Linked DNA regions of Homo sapiens. The protein of the gene in region 4 purifies or fractionates together with the protein of the main gene of each other region. This does not show direct contact. Each region holds a gene or a part of one and is shown on either strand. Other genes may lie near its edges. The genes, in order: PGLS, ADA, NENF and DDAH1.

What was found.
Region 1: the proteins of DDAH1 (region 4) and PGLS fractionate together in Homo sapiens (co-fractionation; one large-scale study listed by BioGRID). This does not show direct contact.
Region 2: the proteins of DDAH1 (region 4) and ADA fractionate together in Homo sapiens (co-fractionation; one large-scale study listed by BioGRID). This does not show direct contact.
Region 3: the proteins of DDAH1 (region 4) and NENF fractionate together in Homo sapiens (co-fractionation; one large-scale study listed by BioGRID). This does not show direct contact.

The regions. Positions count from the first base shown.
Region 1 is NC_000019.10:17,513,580-17,519,127, reverse strand, and holds part of PGLS (6-phosphogluconolactonase), read right to left. Parts: intron 2,956-5,548; coding exon 2,848-2,955; intron 1,841-2,847; coding exon 1,739-1,840; intron 1,419-1,738; coding exon 1,278-1,418; intron 1-1,277. UniProt on the Homo sapiens protein: Hydrolysis of 6-phosphogluconolactone to 6-phosphogluconate.
Region 2 is NC_000020.11:44,624,200-44,629,747, forward strand, and holds part of ADA (adenosine deaminase), read right to left. Parts: intron 4,971-5,548; coding exon 4,848-4,970; intron 2,401-4,847; coding exon 2,257-2,400; intron 1,486-2,256; coding exon 1,370-1,485; intron 131-1,369; coding exon 3-130; intron 1-2.
Region 3 is NC_000001.11:212,438,770-212,444,317, reverse strand, and holds part of NENF (neudesin precursor), read right to left. Parts: intron 1,754-5,548; coding exon 1,693-1,753; intron 1-1,692. UniProt on the Homo sapiens protein: Acts as a neurotrophic factor in postnatal mature neurons enhancing neuronal survival. Promotes cell proliferation and neurogenesis in undifferentiated neural progenitor cells at the embryonic stage and inhibits differentiation of astrocytes.
Region 4 is NC_000001.11:85,461,181-85,467,272, forward strand, and holds the start of DDAH1 (N(G),N(G)-dimethylarginine dimethylaminohydrolase 1), read right to left. Parts: upstream 3,980-6,092; 5' UTR 3,866-3,979; coding exon 3,563-3,865; intron 3,420-3,562; exon of another isoform or gene 3,340-3,419; coding exon of another isoform or gene 3,316-3,339; intron 1-3,315. UniProt on the Homo sapiens protein: Hydrolyzes N(G),N(G)-dimethyl-L-arginine (ADMA) and N(G)-monomethyl-L-arginine (MMA) which act as inhibitors of NOS. Has therefore a role in the regulation of nitric oxide generation.

The DNA.
Region 1 (5,548 bases), on a different chromosome or scaffold from region 4:
TGGCCAGGCTGGTCTTGAACTCCTGACCTCAGGTGATCCGCCTGCCTCAGCCTCCCAAAGTGCTGGGATTACAGGCATAAGCCACCGCGCCCCGCCTGATTTATTTTTTTTGGAGATGAGTTCTCGTGATGTTCCCCAGTGCAGTGGTAATTCACAGTTGCAATTACATTTCACTATAGCTTCGAACTCCTGAGCTCGAGTAATCCTCCTGCCTTAGCCTCCTGAGTAGATGGGATGATAAGCATGGCCTGGCTCTTCATTTGACTTTTTTCCAACCACTTAGAAAAGTAAAAACCAGGCTAGGCACGGTGACTCATATCTGTAATCCCAGCACTTTGGGAGGCCAAGGCAGGTGGATCACATGAGGTCAGCAGTTTGAGACCAGCCTGGCCAACATGGTGAAACCCCCTCTCTACTAAAAATACAAAAATTAGCCAGGCCTGGTGGCAGGCGCCTATAATCCCAGCTAGTCAAGAGGCTGAGGCAGGAGAACCGCTTGAACCTGGGAGGTAGAGATTGTAGCGAGCTGAGGTCACATCAGTGCACTCCAGCCTTGGCGACAGAGGGAGACTCTGTCTCAACAACAATAACACAAAAAACAAAAAAAAAATAAAAATATATTTCCAGTTTCTTCTGTAGTTGTTGGTCTTTTCAATGAAGGCAACTAAAACCTTTTTAATTATTTAGTTTATTTTTAATGCTGTAATGAATTTGTATTTTCCTAAAATACTTTACATAACAGTACCTTTTTTTATTCATAATACCACGTGATTTTTTTTTCTCTTGATTAGCCTTGTCAGGAGCTTTTCTATCTTTTAGATCTACTTACCATTAAAGTTTAAAATATATTAACCAACTCATTAATTTCTGACTTTAATTTCACTTAGTCCTGCCACTGACTTTTGTAGATTTATATTATTGTCCTTTTTCTAATTCTACAGGAAAGCACTTGATTTATTTCAATAGTTTGCTACTTAATAATTTTTTTTAAATGCATTTGAATGCTATTAATTTACCTCTGAATGCAGCTTTGGCCTCATCTCATCAATTTCATTTCATAGCGGTTAATACCTAACTAGCCTTTAATTGCAATTTTCTGGGGTTTTTTTTTTTTTTTTCCTTTTTTTCTAATTGCAATTTCAAGTTACCTTTCAACCCAAGAATGACTGAGTTTTCTTCAGATCTGATGCTTCAGCACAATAATGTCTGGGGCCATTTTCTGTCCCTGGGGCCCACATGCCCATGAACTTCCCAGGACTAGAACCCTCAGCTGTTACCTTCAGAACAGCTGCCTTGCCTTCTCCAGTTGCCACAAAGATGACAGTTCGTGCTGCATTCAGGACAGGTAGTGTGAGGGTCACACGCTGTGGCGGTGGCTTCGGGGAGTCACTGATGGGAGCCACAATCTTCTCCCGCTCCTTGGGGAGGAAGCCCAGGGATGGAGGCAGAAGGACAATGTCACTTCAGCTTCTTGGACACTTACACACACCAGGCCTGGTCCAGCCACTGTTCCATCCCATCCTACTAACAATCCCATGGTGGGTAGTTTAAGGTCCCTGTTTTAAGGGGCTCAACTGAGACCTGAAAGGATTGAGCCCAGCAGGCAGGTATGTTGGTGGAGGCTGACTTGAACCCTGGCTCTAGACACCCCACCCGGCAGGTGGCTCTCCCTCTGGAAGTCCCAGATGTTAGGGACTGGGCTCAGGACTAGGGTGGAACCCCGCATTGGTGTGCTCACCTGTAGGAGGGGGTGGTCTGGGAAGAGTGAGCAGGTGTGACCATCGGGGCCCACCCCCAGGATCAGCAGGTCGAAAACCGGGATGGAGTCCCCTTGGAATGCCTGGGCGTGGGGAGAAGACAGCCTTGAGAGGTTGTAGGTGGCAGGGGCAGGGGAGACTCAGAGGACACAGAAACAGTTGTCAGATAAAAAAATACAAGTAGCTGTGGCTGGGCATGGTGGCTCACACCTGAAATCCCAGCACTTTGGGAGGCCGAGGTAGGTGGATCACGAGGTCAGGAGTTCAAGACCAGCCTGGCCAACATGATGAAACCCTGTCTCTACTAAAAATACAAAAATTAGCCAGGCGTGGTGGCAGGCACCTGTAGTCCTAGCTACTTGGGAGGCTGAGGTAGGATAATCACTTGAGCCCGGGAGGCAGAGGTTGCAGTGAGCTGAGATTGCATCACTGCACTCCAGCCTAGGTGACAGAGTGACAGAGTAAGACTCCATCTCAAAAAAAAAAAAGGCCCATGGTGGCTCACGCCTATAATCCCAGCACTTTGGAGGCCAAGGTGGGCGGATCACGAGGTCAGGAGATCGAGACCATCCTGGCTAACATGGTGAAACCCCGTCTCTACTAAAAAAATACAAAAAAATTAACCAGGCGTGGTGGCGGGCACCCGTAGTCCCAGCTACTCAGGAGGCTGAGGCAGGAGAATGGTGTGAACCCGGGAGGCGGAGCTTGCAGTGAGCCATGATCACGCCACTGCACTCCAGCCTGGGCGACAGAGTGAGACTCCGTCTCAAAGAAAAAAAAAAAAAAAGAAATACAAGTAGCTGTAACGCAGGAAACAGTGCTCAATGTAGCCTGTGATCAAAGCCATAGCCATACCCATCATATTTCCCCAAGATGTGAGGACCCAGGCCTGTTACCTGGGCAACAGAGGCCGAGTGGCCTTCAGGCTCCCCAGGGCAGGGCTGTGGCCTCGAAGAGGGGATTCCTCAAAGGGATCTGCCAGTGATCCCTGGGGCAGTTCCTGCTGGTGACAATCAGAAGGCCGCTCTGTTGCCCGGGGTGTGGCCGCTTCGTGGATGTGACTCCCTTGCGGCCGCTCCTCGGGGCTCACCTGTCTCAGCTTCTTGGCGTAGTCCTCAGCCGCCTCCTCCACAGGCAGCTCGGGGTTAATGGTGATCACCTGGCTTTCTGGGATCGGCAGTCTGGAGAGAAGATGCGTCTGCAGCCAACAGAGGGACAATGTCACCAACAGTAACGTGACCACCTGGATCCTCCAGGGAGTTTATGACAGTACCGTCATAACACTCATTTACAGATGGGGAGACTGAGGCATGGGGAGGCTGGTGCATTTGTGCAAGGTCCTTCGGTTGGTGAGTGACACTTTGGTTGGTGAGTCACCTCTGGAATGCTGGAAGCCAGGATCCTGAGCCCTGGGTGACGCCGCCTGTCAGGGCAGAGGAGGTTCAAGGGCAAGAGGGAGCCCTGCTGCTCTTGGGGGGCTGGACGGGAGGGTGGCCCTCCTGGGTGAATCGGGATCATGGTGGTTCCTGCGGGGGCCAGCATTCCAACAGGAGTCTTTCAATTCCGTTGTATTTGGGGGGTTTCCTGGCCATAGCCTGCACCTGTCTAGCCAGCCCATTGTCCTGTTTCAAAGCCTCCAGGGTCCCACGGCCCTTGGGATAAAACTCAGCCCCTCACCACCCTCCATGGAGAAGGGTAACCTTCTCCATCCCCACCCTCCCTCCTAAGGCTGCCTGGGAAACTCATATACATCCCTCAGGCCACCTCCTCCGAGCAGCCACCCCCGCCTGCACCTGCCCCACTACAGGGAGTGGGGGCCAGGCTTGCCCAGGCCCAGCACCTGTGGCTAGCGCACAGTAGATGCCCTGGCCTGTGAATGGTGGAGTCGTTGGCAGCAGATTTAACTCAAAAGCACTTGGATCAAGGAGAAAGCTGCAGCCCTATCCCACTGAGAGGCGCCCCAGGGGCCCTGGTCTGCTCTGAGATGGCGTCCATGTCTCGGTGCCTCGTGTTTGTGCAGAGTCTAGCTCAGTGAGCTGAGGCAATGCTAAGGTGAGCCACGAAGTAAACGCAGGGGCTGACTGCCCTGAATGCTGACCTGAGGAGTATGAGCTCCACACTGAGGGCATTGGGGAGCCAAGGAGGGTGTGTGAGCTGGGGAGGGACACAATCGTATCCATAGTTGGAAAGACCACTCTGCTTTGTCCAAGGTCCCTGTGTTAATCTATGCAGCCTGCTATCACAAAACACCATAAACTCGAGGCTTATAAACAACAGAAAATGGCCAGGCATGGTGGCTCACGGCTGTAATCCCAGCACTTTGGGAGGCTGAGGTGGGACAATCGGTTGAGCCCAGGAGTTTGAGACCAGCCTGGGCAGCATAGTGAAACTTCGTATTTACCAAAAATAAAAAATTAGCGGCCTGGCACGGTGGCTCATGCCTGTAATCCCAGCACTTTGGGAGGCCAAGGCAGGCGGATCACCTGAGGTCAGGAGTTCGAGACCAGCCTGACCAACATGGAGAAATCCCACCTCTACTAAAAATATAAAATTAGCTGGGCGTGGTGGTGAATGCCTGTAATCCCAGCTACTTGGGAGGCTGAGGCAGGAGAATCACTTGAACCCAGGAGGCGGAGGTTGTGGTGAGCTGAGATCGCGCCATTGCACTCCAGCCTGGGCAACAAGGGTGAAACTCCAACTCAAAAAAAAAAATTAGCTGGGCCTGGTGGTGCACACCTGTAGTCCCAGCTACTGAGGAGGCTGAGGCAGGGGGATTGATAGAGCCCGGGAGCTGAAGGCTGCAGTAAGCCACGATCATGCCTCTGCACTCCAGCCTGGGCAACACAACAAGATCCTATCTCAAAAAAAGAAAGAAAAGGAAAGGAAAAGAAAAGAAAGTATAGGAAGGGAGGAAGGAAGGAAGGGAAGGAAGGGAGGGAAGGAGGGAAGGAAGGAAGGAAATAGGGTCTTTGCAGATGTAATTAGTTAAGAACAAGTCATAGTGGATTAGTGTGGGCCCTAAATCCAATGACTGGCGTCCTTATATAAGATGAGAAGACACACAGAATCCAAGAAGGCCATGTGCAGACAGAGACAGGAATTGGAATGGTGTGACCCCAAGCCAAGGAACGCCCAGAGCCCCCAGAAGATGAGGAGAAAATGAAGGATCCTCCCAAAGAGCTTTCAGATGGGGCGTGACCCCACCAACACCTTGATTTCAGACTTCTGGCCTCCAGAACGGTGAGAGAATAAATTCCTGTGGCTTTAAGCCGCTCAGTTTGTGGTCATTCGTTATGTAGCCCTAGGGAACCGATATGATTCCCCTCACAGAGAACCGGCAGAAGGAGCAAGTCCTGGCTTCAGGTTTGCTCCCATCACACGGCTTTGGCCTTAGCTGAGCCCTCTTGCCACAGCTTGACCATGGCCAGCTCCTGCACATGCTCCAGCTCTCAGCTCAAATGGCACCTTCTCAGGACCTCCCACCCCATAGCCCTTGACGAATGCTCACTCCCTATTCCCTAGCACTCTGCAGCATTTCACAATTATTTATTTTGAGACAGAGTCTCAACTGTCGCCCAGGCTGGAGTGCAGTGGCATGATCTCAGCTCACTGCAACCTCTGCCTCCCACATTCAAGCGATTCTCGTGCTTCAGCCTCCCCTGTAGCCGGGATTACAGGCACACGCCACCACACCCAGCTAATTTTTGTATTTTTAGTAGAGATGGGGTCTTGCCATGTTGGCTAGGCTGGTCTCCAACACCTGACCTCAGGTGATCCACCATCCTTGGCCT
Region 2 (5,548 bases), on a different chromosome or scaffold from region 4:
ACCTGGTAGGCCTGGACATGTCCAGGCAAGAGGCTGCTTCCTGGGATGGTCTCATCTCCAGCCAGGTCAATGGCTACCACGGTCTGCTGCTGGTACTTCTTACACAGCTCCACCACCTTGGGGGACCAGTCTGTGGGCGAGATGCCCACCCAGGCTCTGTCACCAGCACCATGGAGAGACCTCCCAGCCTACCTGCCTGCTGTCCCACCCAAACCCCCCATGGGAGGCCAGCACAAAACAGGGCTCAGTGTCTTCAAATCCTAACTGCTATGTCCTAACCACATGGCCTGCGGAAAACTGCTCTGCTTATGGCCTCAGTTTCCGCCCTTTTCAGAAAGAACCCTGCCAGCTATTGCACAGGGTCACGGCCAGGCTTTGCCGAGGCCATGTGTGTAAAGCACCAAGGACGGGGCCTGAGCTCAGTAAATGACACGGACCCTTCTCTCACCTGGTGTTTCCAACAACACTCATGGTAGGCTTATTCCCATGCGCAGATGAGGAAACGGAGGACCGTTTAACACGTCATCTAAAATAGAACTCACACTAGTATTGGGAAGTATCTCGCTAATGTATTAGGTACTCTTAACCAATAAAGTTATTCTGAAGTGTTTAAGAAAGAATGAATGAACACAGGCTTTGGAACTAGATGTCCCCGGATACAAATCCAGGGTTTGTGCCTTGCAAGAGGCTGCACCTCACTCCACCTCAGTTTCCTCATCTGTCAAATGGGACTAAGCAATGGTAGTTCTGCTTTGCAGGCTGCTGCGAGGATTAGAGGAAATGCGTGCAGGTAGCTCTTTGGTTCTTACTAATCCTGAGGGTAGAGGAATGAAGTAAGTGTGATCATCTCCTTGTGACAGTGCACAACTGAGGTGTCTTGGTGCATAACCAGAGCAGCAGTGTGACCTGCCCAATATCACACAGTGAGGCTGTGCACCATGAGGCACAAACTCTAGAGATCTGATCTGCGTCAGTGACAAGGGAGACCCCTCAGAAATCTTGGAAATCAGACCTATTCAGGCCCAGACAGGATGGGGCCTGGTCCACTGGGTCTCGAGGGAGGACTATGGGCTGATCAGAATCTAGCCTAGATTTTTTTTTCAATAGTTACGTTCCTATTTGGTGTTGAGCTTCCTGCAGGGTGGCTATAAAGGCATGGTGTCCCTGGGGAGAACATCTCCAGAAGTTCTGAGCCTGCCTAGGAGGTCTCCAGTTGTTTCATGAAGCCCCAAGTTCATGCCAGTGGGCTCAAGGGGACACCATGGGGCTGTGGGGCACAGGGGAGATCAGGTACAGCCCCACTGCTAGGCCAGGAGGTCAGGGCCAGGGTGAGACGGGCGGCCCTGGGCAGGGCGGTGATCCTACTCACTGGGCTGGTGGCGCATGCAGCACAGGATGGACCGGGCCTTGACCCCGAAGTCTCGCTCCCCCTCCTGCAGGCCCTGGCCCACTAGGGCCACCACCTCGTCTGGGGTGAGGTCCCCTCTGTGTGAGGAGAGGAGTAGGGATGGGCCTGAGGCAAAAGGAAGGCCTAAAGGGCAGCTCTGGGACTGGGACAGAGGAGGAAGAGGAGGCTTTGGGGAGGACCCTCCTCCCCCACTGACCCACTGCCTCAGAGGAAAGACTGGCAGAGATGCCCCCAGGCCCTAGCATGTCCCTCTAGCTCTTAAAGCAGCTGGGTGCTCCTAGATCTTAGTGGGAGGTGTGGGGTGTCAACATGGCCCTCCCCACCCCCAGATGGACAGCATTGCTAAGCTTGGGCCTGCCATGATGTTCACATTCTATATGTATCAGAATCATGGCTCAGAAAATGGGGCAGGGTGGTTTTGTGATACCACTTAGAGATCCATGGGGGCCCAGGCAGGGGGCTAGAAATGGGCCAGACTCACTTCAGTTATGAAGTTAGAGCAGGACCTTTAGGGCCTTTAGAGATCTGATCAGCATCAGTGACAAGGGAGACCCCTCAGAAATCCTGGGTGGCTAAGCAGGTTAACATTCCTGGACAGCAGGCCTGTGGCCAGAGCAAGACACAGCCAAACACTTGTGCCCAAGGTAAGAACATAACGGCAAAGGGAGGATGGGAACCACGTCTCTTGTGACAGAGTTAAACCCATCTTTCTGAGGCCATGGACCAGACTGGGGGCAAGAACAAGGTCTTGCTTGGGTCAGGGATTCCCAGCAGTTCGCCCTTCCAGTCTCAGAGCTGAGCCTCCCAGCCACACCCTCAGCATGGCCCCTTCCAGGCCCATCACTCACTCAGCCTGGTTCCAGGGGATTGGCTCCACTTTGGAGTTGGCCAGCAGGTGCGGACTGTACCGCACCTCCACATACACCACGCCCTCTTTGGCCTTCATCTCTACAAACTCATAGGCGATCCTTTTGATAGCCTCCCGGCAGCCCCTGGGAAGGGAAGAAAGGGGTTGGGAACAACCTTCCCCAAGTCCCTTGGGAGCTCCAGGAGCAAATGACATCCCCAACCCTTGGCAGATTAAACCCACTTCATCCCCCAGACCCAAGCTCTGGGCATCCACTGGATAAGATCCCAGACACTGGGCAAGTCCTATCAGCTCTACTTTGGAACTGCATACCAGTTCTCACCCCTCCATCCTGGCCTGAATCACGCCATCTCTAACTGGCCTCCCTGTCTCCATGCTTGCCCCTGTCATCCTGTTCTCCACCCAGCAGTTGGGGCAATCTTTTAAGAAGGTAAATCAAAGCATATCACTTCTCCCCTCGAAGCCCCAGTAGCTTCCTGCCACGGAGAGTGACATCGCAACTCCCAGGTCCTGCCCACAAGGCCTGCATCCTCCAGGCCTTGCCAGCCTCCCCAGCACCTTCCTTCTCCCTCATTCCCTGAGGCCACCGGAGAAGACACAGGCCTGCTCTTCCCCGATACTGTCCTACACTGCGTCTCTCCCGCTCCCCTGGTTTAGAGCCAGCTGAAGCTTCACCTCCTCAGAGAGGCCTTCCCTGACCACCTTATCTTTTTTTTTTTTTTTTGAGACAGAATCTTGCTCTGTCGCCCAGGCTGGAGTGCAGTGGCGCCATCTCAGCTCACTGCAGCCTCTGCCTCCTGGGTTCAAGTGATTCGTCTGCCTCAGCCTCCCAAGTAGCTGGGATTACAGGCGCATGCCACCACGCCCGGCTAATTTTTTGTATTTTTAGTAGAGACAGCGTTTCGCTGTGTTAGCCAGGATGGTCTCGATCTCCTGACCTCATGATCCGCCCACCTCAGCCTCCCAAAGTGCTGGGGATACAGGCGTGAGCCACTGTACCTGGCCCAGACCGCCTTATCTTAAAACGGCCCCTCCACCATTCTCCTGGGCTTTCTTTTTCTCCCAGGTCCTTATCACTACTCAACATTGTGTGTCATATGGCTTATCAGCCAGTTTGCTGTATTCCCTACTAGAATGCAGTCTCCATGTGGCAAGGACCCCTCTGTCTTGGGATGGCTGCGACCTCTCAGCTGAGGACCATGCCTAGGACAGAGTAGCCCAATATTTGTTGGTGATGGAGTTAAGGCTGGCAGGGAAGAGAAATGAGAGAAAAGGACACAGCTGGACAAGTCCAGAGGGATGCCTGGATGTGGGAGACACGTGGGATACAGTCATGGACTTGGATCCTTGTGCCCACACTTATCTGCTGTGTGACCCCTGGTTAGTCACCCTCTGACACCTAGGTCAAGGAGTTATTGCGGGGACAAATGAGTCAAACTTCATAAACCCCACCCGGGTCAGTGCTTGGAGCAGAGCGGACAAATGCTCAAAACATTTTCGTTGTTATTACTGCATGTTTGTTCCAGAAGCAAGGCACAAATTGGCCTGCCAGGGCCACTGTGTTGATCACGTAACGGTGGACTGTGCTTAGCTGGAAGTTCCCACCATGAAGAGTGAAAATGAAGTGGTTACTAGAATGTGTGAGGGAAGGCACACAAGTGCTGGGAGAGCCCAGCGTGGGAAGAAAGTGCCCTGCCCAGGGGAGATCAGGCCACTCTCAGGAGAAGGGGTCACCAGAAGTTCTTGCATCTTCAGGATGAGGATGGAGGCCAGGCGCAGTGGCTCACGCCTGTAATCCCAGCATTTTGGGAGGCCGAGGCGGGCAGATCACCTGAGGTCAGGAATTCGAGACCAGCCTGGCAAACATAGTAAAACCCCATCTCTACTAAAAATACAAAACCATTAGTTGGGTGTGATGGTGGGTGCCTGTGATCCCAGCTACTTGGGAGGCTAAAGCAGGAGAATCCCTTAAACTGGGAGGTGGAGGTTGCAGTGAGCTGAGATCGCACCACTGCACTTCAGCCTGGGCAACAGAGTGAGACTCTGTCTCAATAAATAAATAAATAAATAAATAAATAAATAAATAAAGCAGTCATGGAAATTTCTCTCTAGTACTCGCCCATACCCCTTCTGGGCCTTTTCGGTACCTAGTGCTGTTCCCTGGCGACTCAAGACAAGAAAAAGAAAAAGCCTTTTGGAGAATCTTCCCCACATCTCCCCGCCCCCACCCTATATTCAGGCCTCTCCTCCCCTCACAACACGAAGCCCTGAACTAGGAGATAGATGGCCCGGGTTCAAGCCCTGCACTGCCTCTGACCCTGTGTTCTTAGCTCCCATATTCTGCCATTTCTCTGTAGAACTTGAAGCAATTTCAGTCCATCACACCCACATCTCAGAAGGGAAAACTGAGGCCTAAAGGCACTGGAGAGACTCACTAAGTGTACACAATGGTGAGAAAGACAGCTGTGGTTTCAGAGCAACTTCTCTGGCCCCCACAGGCTGAGGGACAGGCCTGGTCCTAGTCATAGGGATCAATGCTGCCCTAGGACCTGTGGGTTGGGGGCAACTCACGCGATAGCAGGCATGTAGTAGTCAAACTTGGCCAGGAAGTCTGGAAGGGTGAGCGGCTTGTCCATGCCAATGACGTTCAGCAGCCCCTCTGCTGTGTTAGCTGGGAGGGCGATCCCTCTCCTCCTGGAAACAAAACAGTGAGTGGTGGACCAACCCGGGGCAGGATCCAGGCAGGCCTGACAGGCCAGGATGGAGCAGACTCAGGAGCGCCAGCCTCCTTGCAGGACCACAGCAGGAGACATGGGCGTCTCTCAGTCCAGCTGCTCCCACTGGACAGATGGGGAAACTGAGAACCAGGACCGGAATTTTTCCAGCACCTTCTACCCCCAATGCACAAGTCAGCAAATCTCAAGGGGGATAAACAGGTTGAAGTGTGTGTGTGTGTGTGTGTGTATGTGTGCACACATGCACACACCCCCTCCATATCCTTGGTTGACTGATGCTTGGAGACAAGGAAAGTGCCAGGTCAAGTTCATGGCTTCCTCCTCAGCCCCAGGAGCTGGCTCAGCCAGCTGGTCCTATGCCCAGTCAGGGGTTATCAGGGGCAGTAACTGCAGCATCACAATTCCCAGGGTAGGGGCAGGCATCAGGACTTCACCCTCCATCTGGCTGGCACATCAGAGGCTTGCCCAGCCCAGCGCACTGGGAGAGGGCCGGTGGAGGCTCAGGGGAGGGGCCCAGTGGGCCGCCAGCCAGCTCAG
Region 3 (5,548 bases), about 130 Mb from region 4:
AGACGTAAGCGTGGGTTTACATGCAGAGTAACCAGGAGCTTGCACGTGGGGGCGCTCCCAAGGCCCGCACCCAATCCTAAAAAAGACTCCACGCTCACGGAGAGGCCAAACAATGGCGATACAAAGTCCAGTAAGCCACCCCAGCCATCAGGTTGGATTCCACTTACTCTAAATGTGAAGTAAGTCACACATGCAGGCTGAGCAGGGATTTTCAGAAAATATAAAATGAGAATAGTACCCCTACAACCTCTTTTGTTGTTGTTTTTTTTTGACAGGGTCTCACTCTTGCCCAGGCTGGAGTGCAGTGGCACAATCTTGGCTCACTGCAATCTCCACCTCCCGGGTTCAAGCAATTCTCCCACCTCAGCCTCCAGAGTAGCTGGGACTACAGGCATGTGCCACCACCATGCCCAGCTAATTTTTGTATTTTTTTTTTTGAAGAGATGGGGTTTCACCATGTTGCCCAGGCTAGTCTTGAACTCCTGAGCTCACATGATCTGCCCACCTTGGCCTCCTAAAGCGCTGGGATTACAAGCATAAGCCACTGTGCCTAGCCCCCTTCTCGTTCTGTTTTTTCACCTAAGTGTTAATACTGAGAAAATAGTCTCTTAAAAATATTAGAGATGCAGGCTGGGTGCGGTGACTCACGCCTGTAATCCCAGCACTCTGAGAAGCCAAGATGGGCAGATCATTTGAGGTCAGGAGTTCAAGATCAGCCTGGTTAACATGGTGAAACCCCATCTCTACTAAAAATACAAAAATCTGGGCATGGTGGCGTGCACCTGTAATTCCAGTTACTCAGGAGGCTGAGGCAGGAGAATCGTTTGAACCTGGCAGCTGGAGAAGGTCGCATCACTGCACTCTAACCTGGGCGACAGAGCGAGACTGTCTCCAAAAAAAAAATTAAAGATGCAAACAAGAAAAATGTTCCCTCTTCTTAAATGTTGGTGGAAGCCAAATCTATTCCCATTCAGCAGTGTTTGTTATCAAATAATAGATAAACCAATACAAAACTATCTCCAAGATATCATTAGTAGTTACATTAAATGGCACTAAAATGTTCTGTAATGTTCTATAATGCCAACTCTTTACTAAAGAACACTTCTCTCATTGCTTCAACTAGGGTAAATCATTAAGTTTGAATTTAATTCTACAGGCAATGGAAAGTCATGAAAGGCTTTTGAGTAGAAGCATGTCATTATCAGGGGAAAAAAGCCCCTGCTGAAGTAAAACACTGACAAAGATTAACTCAATCTGCTCATTTAAAATGGAAGGAAGGCCAGGTGTGGTGGCTCACACCTGTAATACTAGCACTTTGGGAGGCCGAAGCGGGTGGATCACAAGGTCAGAAGTTCAAGACCAGCCTTGCCAAGATGGTGAAACCCCGTCTCTACTAAAAATACAAAAAAATTAGCCAGCGGTGGTGGTGGTGCCTGTAATCCCAGCTACTCGGGAGGCTGAGGCAGAGAATTGCTTGAACCCAGAAGGCAGAGGTTGCAGTGAGCCAAGATCGTGCCACCGCACTCCAGCCTGGGTGACAGAGTGAAACTCCGTCTCAAAAAATAAAATAAAATAAAATGGAATGAAAAGGACTTGCCTAATGTTCCCTCCCTTTCCTCACACCTCCAAGTGCTGCTCACTCTGGCTTCTGTGCTCCCTGGAAATGAAGATTCAAAATGCCACACCACTTACCCTTTCCGGAGGTGACATCAAACACCACTCCCTTCACTGCCAAGTAGATGGGCTGATCTTCCTAGAAAGCAGGGGAGAAGCTGTGAAGAGGAAGGGAAGAGCCAGCTCTTCCAGTGCAACTTAGTAAAATCTTCTCCCATCACAAGCTGAGCAAAGAGCAGTGGGTCAAGTCCCAAAGGCTTTCTGTTAAGCCTGGTCCTTGGCGAGCTTGCCACCTGCCTGGGCAGCGTCATGCCCGCACACAGAAATTTGGAAAAGTCATAAAGTCTCATGACAAGAATGTGGCAATTCTCTCCTTTATAGAGAAAATCAGGGGCCAGGCACAGTGACTCACGCCTGTAATCCCAGCACTGTGGGAGGCCAAGGCGGGCGGATCACCTGAGGTCAGGGGTTCAAGACCAGCCTGGCCAATATGGTGAAACCCTATCTCTACTAAAAATACAAAAATTAGCCGGGCATGGTGGCACATGCCTGTAATCCCAGCTGCTCGCGAGTCTGAGGCTGGAGAATTGCTTGAACCCTGGAGGCAGAGGTCGTAGTGAACCAAGATCATGCCACTGCACCCCAGCCTGGGTGACACAGTGAGACTCCGTCTCAAAAAAAAGAAAATCAGGAACAGAAGCAACTTCATGGAGATGAAAATTCAAAAGAATAGTAAATGATGAATTACTTATCAGTCCAAATTTCCTTTCCTCTTCATCAATAGACATACACGGATGTGACTGATATGAGCAATCTATTTTATATTTTGCTTCTTACAGGTAACATTCCCTCATATAAACATTTCCACCAAAATGACTGTCATTTAAACAGCTCCATGGGGCCCCATCTTTTTTTTTGAGACAGAGTTTCACTCATGCTGCCCAGGCTGGAGTGCAATGGCGCAATGTCAGCTCACTGCAACCTCCACCTTCCGGGTTCATGTGATTCTCCTGACTCAGCCTCCTGAGTAGCTGGGATTACAGGCACCCGCCACCACGCCCCGCTAATTTTTTGTCTTTTTAGTAGAGATGGGGTTTCATCATGTTGGCCAGGCTGGTCTCGAACTCCTGACCTCAGGTGATCCACCCACCTAGGCCTCCCAAAGTGCTGGGATTACCGACGTGAGCCACCATGCCCGGCGTAGGGCCCCATCTTATATTAGTGATATTGTCTACCTATTTGTTTAGCTAGCTTTCTATTTTGGGTATTTGGGTGGTTTCCAATCCTTAGAACTATAAATGGCAGCATTATGAATACATGTTTCTATCAATTACTTTCTAATTTGGTGACTTATTTCATTGAGGCCTTTATTTAAAAATTTCTCTCCACCCAGTGAATGCATAGGAAAGTGCCCTATTTCAATATATGGAATTCCTGGGCCTAAGTATATGAAAACTTAATCACTGTTTATATTTTATTAGTTTGTCCTGTAACAACATTTATAGTGCTAGAGATATGTAAGCAATGCTGTTTCCCCACCGTTCTACTAACAATGGGCTTTACACTTTTTTTTGGCTCTATTAGCAGGCATAAAATGTTACCTCAGAATTTCCCCACCAAGAAAGAATTACACAAAAAAGGATGGCATGACTTTTCTAGCTTCCATCAAGTTGGGCTCAGGCTGGGACGATGGGTACAGTCCCAAGACACCCAAGACAAGATCTCTCCTTTGTCTCAGTGCCATCAGAGGTGCAGGGGCATCAGCCAGGTGGCTCACAGCCCAGGCGAGGGTGGGAGTCGCTGCTGGGTCCATAGGAATCTCAGGCTCTGCAAGCACCTGCTGCTTGGCCTTCTCTTTGGGGTGGGCCTTAGTGTTCTTGCGCTTGTGCAGCTTATGGTGAAGGGTTTTCATGATCCCATTTAACAGACAGAGGAGCTACTGAGGCTCAGAGAAGCTAAGCAACTTGCCCAAGGAAACACACCTCACTGCCTCATAACCACTCAGGCCTGCTTCTCTGCCTGTCATATGAGGGTAACGCCCACTTGCCTCGGGAATGCTGAGGAAAAGAGTGTACGTAATACCTAGCAGGCACGACACAGGAGCTCAGCAGAGGGCTGCCTTTTATTACTCCAAACCGGCTCCTAAAGACAGGCCCTAGAGGACTGCCATTGACTCTGTGGACACTTGCTCCACCTCATCTAACACGGGTCATTTGAAACGGCCTGGATTTCCAAGCCAGCAGACGGCATTTTTCTTTGTGATGATTTACCGCCTTTCCTTTACCAGGTTTCCTTATTCCTCAGCTTTGATTATTTATCAAGTGGGATTATGTATTTATATCAATTTTAAAAATATATTACAGCTATCATTTAACCCCAGTATTTTGTCATATCTTCCATTCTGTGGCTTTCTCCTTGATACTTCTTTTCTTTTTCCTTTTTTTTTTTTTTTGAGACAGAGTCTTACTCTGTCACCCAGACTGGAGTGCAGTGGTACAATATCGGCTCACTGCAACCTCCACCTCCCCAGTTCAAGCGATTCTCCTGCCTCAGTCTCCTGAGTAGCTGGGATTACAGGCACACGCCACCATACCCAGATAATTTTTGTATTTTTAGCAGAGACAGGGTTTCACCATGTTGGCCAGGCTGGTCTCAAACTCCTAACCTCAAGTGATCTGCCCGCCTCGGCCTCCCAAAGGGCTGGGATTACAGGCATAAGCCACCATGCCCAGCCGACACTTATTTTCTATGGGCAAACAGCCATATAAATATAACATTCACATACATAAGATAAACAAAAACATGCATCTTATCACTAACACTCTTTTCTTTTTTTGTGGGGGGGGGACGGAGTCTAGCTCGGTTGCCCAGGCTGGAGTGCAGTGGCACAATCTCGGCTCACTGCAACCTCTGCCTCCCAGGTTCAAGCTATTCTCCTGCCTCAGCCTCCAGGGTAGCTGGGATTACAGACGTGTGTCACCACGCCTGGCCAATTTTTTTTTTTTTTTTTTTTTTGTATATTTAGTAGAGACAGGTTTCACCATGTTGGCCAGGCTGGTCTAGAACTCCTGACCTCAGGTAATCTGCCTGCCTTGACCTCTCAATGTGTTGGGATTATAGGCATGAGGCAACACGCCCGGCAAACAATCTTTTTTTTTTATGAGAAGGAGTTTCACTCTTGTTGCCCAGGCTGGAGTGCAATGTCATGATCTTGGCTCATCGCAACCTCCGCCTCCCGGGTTCAAGCATTTCTCCTGCCTCAGTGTCCCGAGTAGCTGGGATTACAGACGTGTGCCACCATGCTTGGCTAATTTTTTTTTTTTTTGTATTTTTAGTAGAGATGGGGTTTCTCCATGTTGGTCAGGCTGGTCTTGAACTCCCAACGTGAGGTGATCTACCCGCCTCGGCCTCCCAAAGTGCTGGGATTACAGGCGTGAGCCACTGCACCCAGCAATCTCCTTTTTTTAACAGTAAAATTTTTATCTCCTCCTTAAACTACTTACTTGAAGGTGTAAGTGCGAAGAGGAAGTCATATTATAGGGGAAGAAAAGAATGTTTAGCATTTTTGAGGCCTCAGAGTGACATAGATACCTCATATGCCATGCAGAGGAATGGTCTTATCAGTAAACAGAGCGTGCTGTGGTGGTGAGTTCTGACCCAGTGTAGATGAACATCCATGGATAGCACAACCCCCAGGCACAGACTCTCAGGCCTGGGAAATGACAACTGAGAAGGTGGAGGGTGGGTGGAAGGCTTGGGAGTATAAATGCAGACACAGGAATAGAAGTGACACAGAAACAGCCAGGCATGGTGGCTCCCAGCACTTTGGGAGGCTGAGGTGGGCAGATGACTTGAGGTCAGGAGTTTGAGACCAGCCTGGCCAACATGGTGAAAACCTGTCTCTACTAAAAATACAAAAATTAGCCGGGTGTGG
Region 4 (6,092 bases):
ATAGGCCTCTAACGGCTTATTTTTCTTTAAAGTATTAAACATAAAAAATACTCAAAATCTAAAGATACAACATTATTAGACAATTAACATTATTTACTGACTTTCTGTAAATACAGTTTCCTTCACTAAAACTTAGGCTTCCTGCACACAGGGCCTGTGTTTTATTAATCTTTGAGGCCCCATTCAGGCAAACACTGGGCTTTCACAGGAATACTTTCTTGAATTCCAAGGAAGAAAAGTCATTAAATGAAACACGATGTTTTGATTAAGAAGGAATTTCTCAAGATTTTTATAAAAACAAACAAAACAACAATAACAATAGAAAGAGGCAGGGACAGGGAAAGGGAGAAGAAGAAACAGCTATAAACCACCTACGTTCATAATAGAACTTTTGGGACCTTACTGATTGGGAATGCTTGTGAAACACCAAATATGTCATAAGGAGGGAGAATTAAGGTTAATCTAAAATAATGAGAACACTTGTTCAACAAAATATTTGCTACATGCCTATTGTATACAAGGCCTTGGTGACAAAATGTTGACCAATACAGACATGATCCTAGCCCTGACAGGTTACATAATAGTGGGAGATACAGAACGGTAAACAGGCAATTATCACGTGGTATGATATATATAAAAGGAAGTTTATAGCGTTTTAGGAGCTCATAAAAGGAGAACCAATTCCATGCTTGGAAAAGTGATGTCTAAGTGGGACTAGAGCTTTGGAGTTCTCTAAACCCGAGTTCAAATCCTGGTTTTACAGGTTACACTCTATAACCCTGGCCAATTTATTTAATCTCTCCAGGCCTCAGTTTCACCAACTTTAAAATAGGAATTATGATAGTATTGAGTTCAAAGAGTTGATGTGAGTATTAATGAAATGCACATCATAAATCTGGTATGGTGTATGGCAAGTGGCAAGTACCCAATAAATATTAGCTAATAATAGTGATAACAGTAAGCTGAGAACTTAAGACAGATAAAAGGGAAGAGAGGAAAGAGGAAGAGTACCCGGACAAAATAAAAGCAATAGTCTGGTGAGCTTCAGTGAAAGAACCTCGCTCGATCCATGGATCAGGGGATGCTTGGGGTGGGATCAGAGGTGAAGCTGAAGCTGGAAAGGCAAGCACAGCCCAGCTCAATGGGTTTATCTAAGCTCAGTGGGGGCCCCTTGAGAATTTTAGTCAGAGAAGGGACAGGATCAGATCTGAGTTTTTAAAAGACCAGCTTGGCTACAGTGTGGGAATGGAATGGAAAATTGACAAGACTAGAGGCAGAGATCAGTGACAATAATTTTAAAATAATTCCTTGGCTACTGTGGATTTTCACAGTTGGGAATGCAGACATCACATGAAAAAAATATACAGCAATCCATAGAGGGTCTTGAAGTAACTATCTTCTTGTATTAGCATTTCATTCATCATTCATTCATTCATCCACTCACTCAACAAGCATTAACACCTACCAAGGCGGTGAGCTGGTGCCGTGAGAGATTTCTACAAGCATTGCCCTACATGACTCTGCCCTCCAGAAGCATCCCATCCAACACTGACTGCCCATATTCCTCTCCCTGCCTGGGAGGCCTGTTACCCTGGTGACCCAGATCATGTGCAATGCAAAGGCAGGCACCAGCAGGAGACCCAAACCCAGAGGCAGTATCACATAGTAGAGAGATGTCACTAACTACATCAGTGTATAGCTGACTTCTTATTAACGGAGTAAATCTTCCCTGATCCATAGTTAAGTGAATAATAATAGTCAACATTCATCAAATGTCCTGTCCTGTGAATTTCAGGTAGATTAATACATCTATTACAACAACTTTGTGAAACAGGTATTATTATGTCCACTGTATAGATGCGAAAACTGAGGCAAGAGACACTCCCTAAAGGTCACAGAATTAGAAAGTGGTAGAGCTGAGATTCAGTCTAATGTTTTTATCCACTACACCATGTGACTTCTGGCAGTGGGCCACCAGGCTGATATCAGAATTAAACCAATTTAAAATGTATGCTTCAAAATCTAGGCAGGGGAAAAAGATCACTGCTCACTTAGGTATCAGGGAGGCCAAAGCTTGGAAGCTTTTATTATAGGAATAAAATGAAATGGGTGAATAAATATGGTGACAGTCTCTTGAGAAGAAATTGGACTACTCTCATCAAAAGAGTGCCATTTTGAAAGGGTTTTGAAATCGATTTTGCTCTTTTAAGTTCAAACCATAGCTCTGCCATTTGGCCTAGAACGCATTAGAAAGTATTCAAATGGGATTACATTCCTTATCAGTTTAAAAGAGTGGGACATCTCACAGACTCAAAGATGGAGAGGTGTGGCAAAGACATCAAAGGGCTAGCAGAGATCTGTTACTCTTTTGGTTTTCTGTTAATGGAGGGTGAAATAAAAGCTGATTATCTCGATGAGAAATTAGTAGAATATGCTTATTTTCTCAGACCATGTGGCATTCCATCAACCAAGTAGTGGAGCAGGTGAGGAATAAGCATATTTTATCATAAGCTCTATGAGGCATTTCCAATGTGAAGTGAATACAGACAAAATAGAAAAAAAATTCTTAAATCTCCAGAAATGAAAGAAACCACTAGCTTCTTGCAATGCCACTGGATGCCAATAGCAACGGAGTCTTGAGCCTGGGCTCTTAACTGGCAATGAGAAGAATCCCAGGCCAGATGGCATTTTAAAATCCAATCTCACTCTATTTGTCTCTCCCCACTAACCTACATTGCACTTAAAGCAATCAGCCATTTCACAAGCTGCAGTATTTCAAAGTAGTTACAACCCTTGAGAACAGAAAAACTCTCTTAATTGCTGTGAGTTTAAAAATATAGAGAATAAAAATTATGGAATTTGTGAAACAACCATCTCTAATTAAACACGCTCGCTAGCACACACACCCAACACCGCACAGAGTACAGCTTTTCAAACCTAGCCCATTCATGCACACATTTAGCACAGCTCACCAACAAAACACTTTTCCTTCCATTCATTCACTTACTAGTCCCGTTCTTTGGGACTCACTCGCCACCACTGAAAACTAACTTGAGAAGCCCCAGGTCTGTGGGCACCGACACCCCGTTAATTCATCCAGCTTGTCCTGCTCCGAGCGCCAGGCAGGACTTGGGGGCTTCGGTGTCACGACTGGCGCTGCCCCCTGGAGGGACGCCCAGCCTCCACCCGCCCTACCGGAGCGGCACCCCTCGCGGCCCTCGCTCCCTGGGAAACACTCAGAGTTGCACTGTCGTCGCTGCCGTTTAATTTTCACAAATAAAAATGCCCGTGAGACGGAATCCCCCGCCCACCCACCTGCCCGAGACCGTACAACCACATTGAATCGGATCCTCCAGAAGGCTGCCGGCAGCCGGGAGGTGTGAACAATGAACTTCTCTCTGACTCTCTGACACACACACACACACACACACTCGCCCCCCGACGGGAAGTTGTGAACTACTAGCCCGAGGGCCAATGGCGCGACTCCCCAGGCAACACGGCGGCCGGCGGCGGGGGAGGGCCTGGCGCGCGCCCCGGCCGCGCCCCTCGAGTCGGCAGTTACCTCCTTCCTCCGGCTCGGCGCCCCGGGTCGGGTGATGAGGGCCGTCTCCTCGCACACCACGGCCACGTCCTCCACGAAGACGCAGTCCGGAAGGCTCTCGTCGGCCGGCAGCTCCACCACCTGCAGCCCCAGCTTGCTGCCCAGCACGCCCACGTAGAGCTGGTGCTGCCGTTCCGCGCGGGCGACGTCCACCTCCTCGCCCTTGGCGCTTCTCAGCGCGTGCTGGCCGAGCGACTCGGGTAGCGCCCGCACCACGGCGTGGGTGGCCCGGCCGAAGGCGGCGGGGTGGCCGAGCCCGGCCATGGCTTCGGGAGGCTTAGGGGCGGCGGCGGCGGCGGAGGCGGCCGGGTCCTGCCGCGGGCAGCGCGCGCTGAGCCTGCGAGCGCCCGTCGGCTCCTCTTGGCAGCCGCTGAATGTGGTGCAGAAGGAGCCCAGCTCGCGCCCGGAGCCCTGCCCGCGCGACTGAGCATGCCCAGAGCTCCGGGCGCCGGCCCGCGCGCATCCCGCGCGCCCACTCCGGCGCTCGCGGGTCTCGCGCCAGCCCAGGCGGGAGTTGTAGCGGCGAGCGCCGGGCGAGGAGTGGGGCCAGGAGAGGCGGCCGGGGAAGCAGCGAGGGCAAGAAGTATGCGGAGGCGGGGGACCTCGGCGAAAAGCCACCGCTACCCGGACCTGGCGGTACCTGTGTTCTGTCGCAGGTGCACACCTCCCATCGTCCCCAGCGCGGACTTGGAGAGCCGGCCTCGGTCTGGACAGAGCAGCTGGAGGGCTTCCTGGTCTTTACCTGAACAGTTTAAACCTTGCGTGCTTACAAAGTCTAGCCCACTTTTGAAGAGCTATAATGGTTTACAGATTCTTCATGTTGAGCTTAAATCCCACGGGTCCCAGTTCTGTTTTCTGGCCTTACCTAAAGTACAAGTTTTTCTTGTTTTGTGTGTGTTCGCGTGTGTGTGTGTTTTCACAAAACAGCATTTGCATATCTGAAAACAGTTCTAATTATCTATGCTGCCTAACACCATCCTCTACCCCCCACCCTAAACCCCCTCCAGTCCTGGAGCCCAAACCACTGAAAAGTAACTAGTGATTTGGTTTCCAAGTCCCTTCAACATTCTGGTCAGCTTCCTTTTGATACACACCAATTTGCTTGTATCCTTTTAAAATCATAGTATCCGGAAAATAAACAATTCTTCCTGTGTGGTCTGACCAGCACAGACTACAGCAGCACCCTTGTTCCAGATGCTGGGCCTCTATGAACACTGCCTAAGCCTGTATTCACTTTTTTGGTGGTCTAGGGCCAAGGCCCAGGCTACAGCCTTCTTGCCAGAACTCTGATCCCAGCTTTTAGGAAACTCTGGATTTCTAGGAGCAGGTCTCTCTGAGCATCCTAGAATGGTTGCCCCAACTGAGCCCAGAGATGTGATCTGCCTTCTCTCCCCTCCCACAAGGGTGGTGTGAATTTATAAATGAGCTTCAAAATTCTCAGCTTCACATTTGAGGAGTTTTTTTTGTTTTTTGTTGTTGTTTTGTTTTGACGGAGTTTCACTCTTGTTGCCCAGGCTGGAGTGCAGTGGCACGATCTCGGCTTACTTCAACTGCTGCCTCCCCAGTTCAAGCAATTCTCCTGCCTCAGCCTCCTGAGTAGCTGGGACTACAGGTGCACGCCACCACTCGCGGCTAATTTGTATTTTTAGCAGAGACAGGGTTTCACCATGTTGGCTAGGCTGGTCTCGAACTCCTGACCTCAGGTGATCCACCCGCCTCCACCTCCCAAAGTGCTGGGATTACAGGCATGAGCTACCACGCCCTGCCCAAATTTGAGGAGTCTCAAGGACAGCTCTGACACTGACATTGGGAAGTGGGACCAAAAGTAAAATAACAAACCTTTAAGACCGACTAGGTAGTACTTCTAAAGCAAAATTCTTAGGGGATCCAGGCAGCCCCATTAGCCCCAGTTTAGCGTCAGAAATCACTTAATGGTGTCCTCAGATGGAGGATTTCCATCAAAGTTACAGGTGAAAGTTGATCTTTTACCTTAAGCTTGCCCTGGTTAAATATAAAATTTATTTATTTTTAAATTAGTTCATTATTTATTCTTTTTTTTTTTTTTTTTTTTTTGAGATGGAGTTTCGCTCTTGTTTCCCAGGCTGGAGTGCAATGGCGCGATCTCAGCTCACTGCAACCTCTGCAACCGGGGTTCAAGTGATTCTCCTGCCTCGGCCTCCCGAGTAGCTGGGATTATAGGCATGTGCCACCACGCCTGGCTAATTTTGTATTTTTAGTAGAGACGGAGTTTCTCCATGTTGGTCAGGCTAGTCTCAAACTCCTCAACTGAGGTGATCCGCCTGCCTCGGCCTCCCAACGTGCTGGGATTACAGGCGTGAGCCACTGCACCCAGCCTATTTATTCTTATTATATATTGTTTATTTGTTTAGCTCCCGGGTTAAATAAAGTATAGGACTTCATTCTGCTCTTTACTGCAGACTTTACCAGACATTGAGGCTCCATCTGTCTCTAGCTGGCCACCATCTAGCAA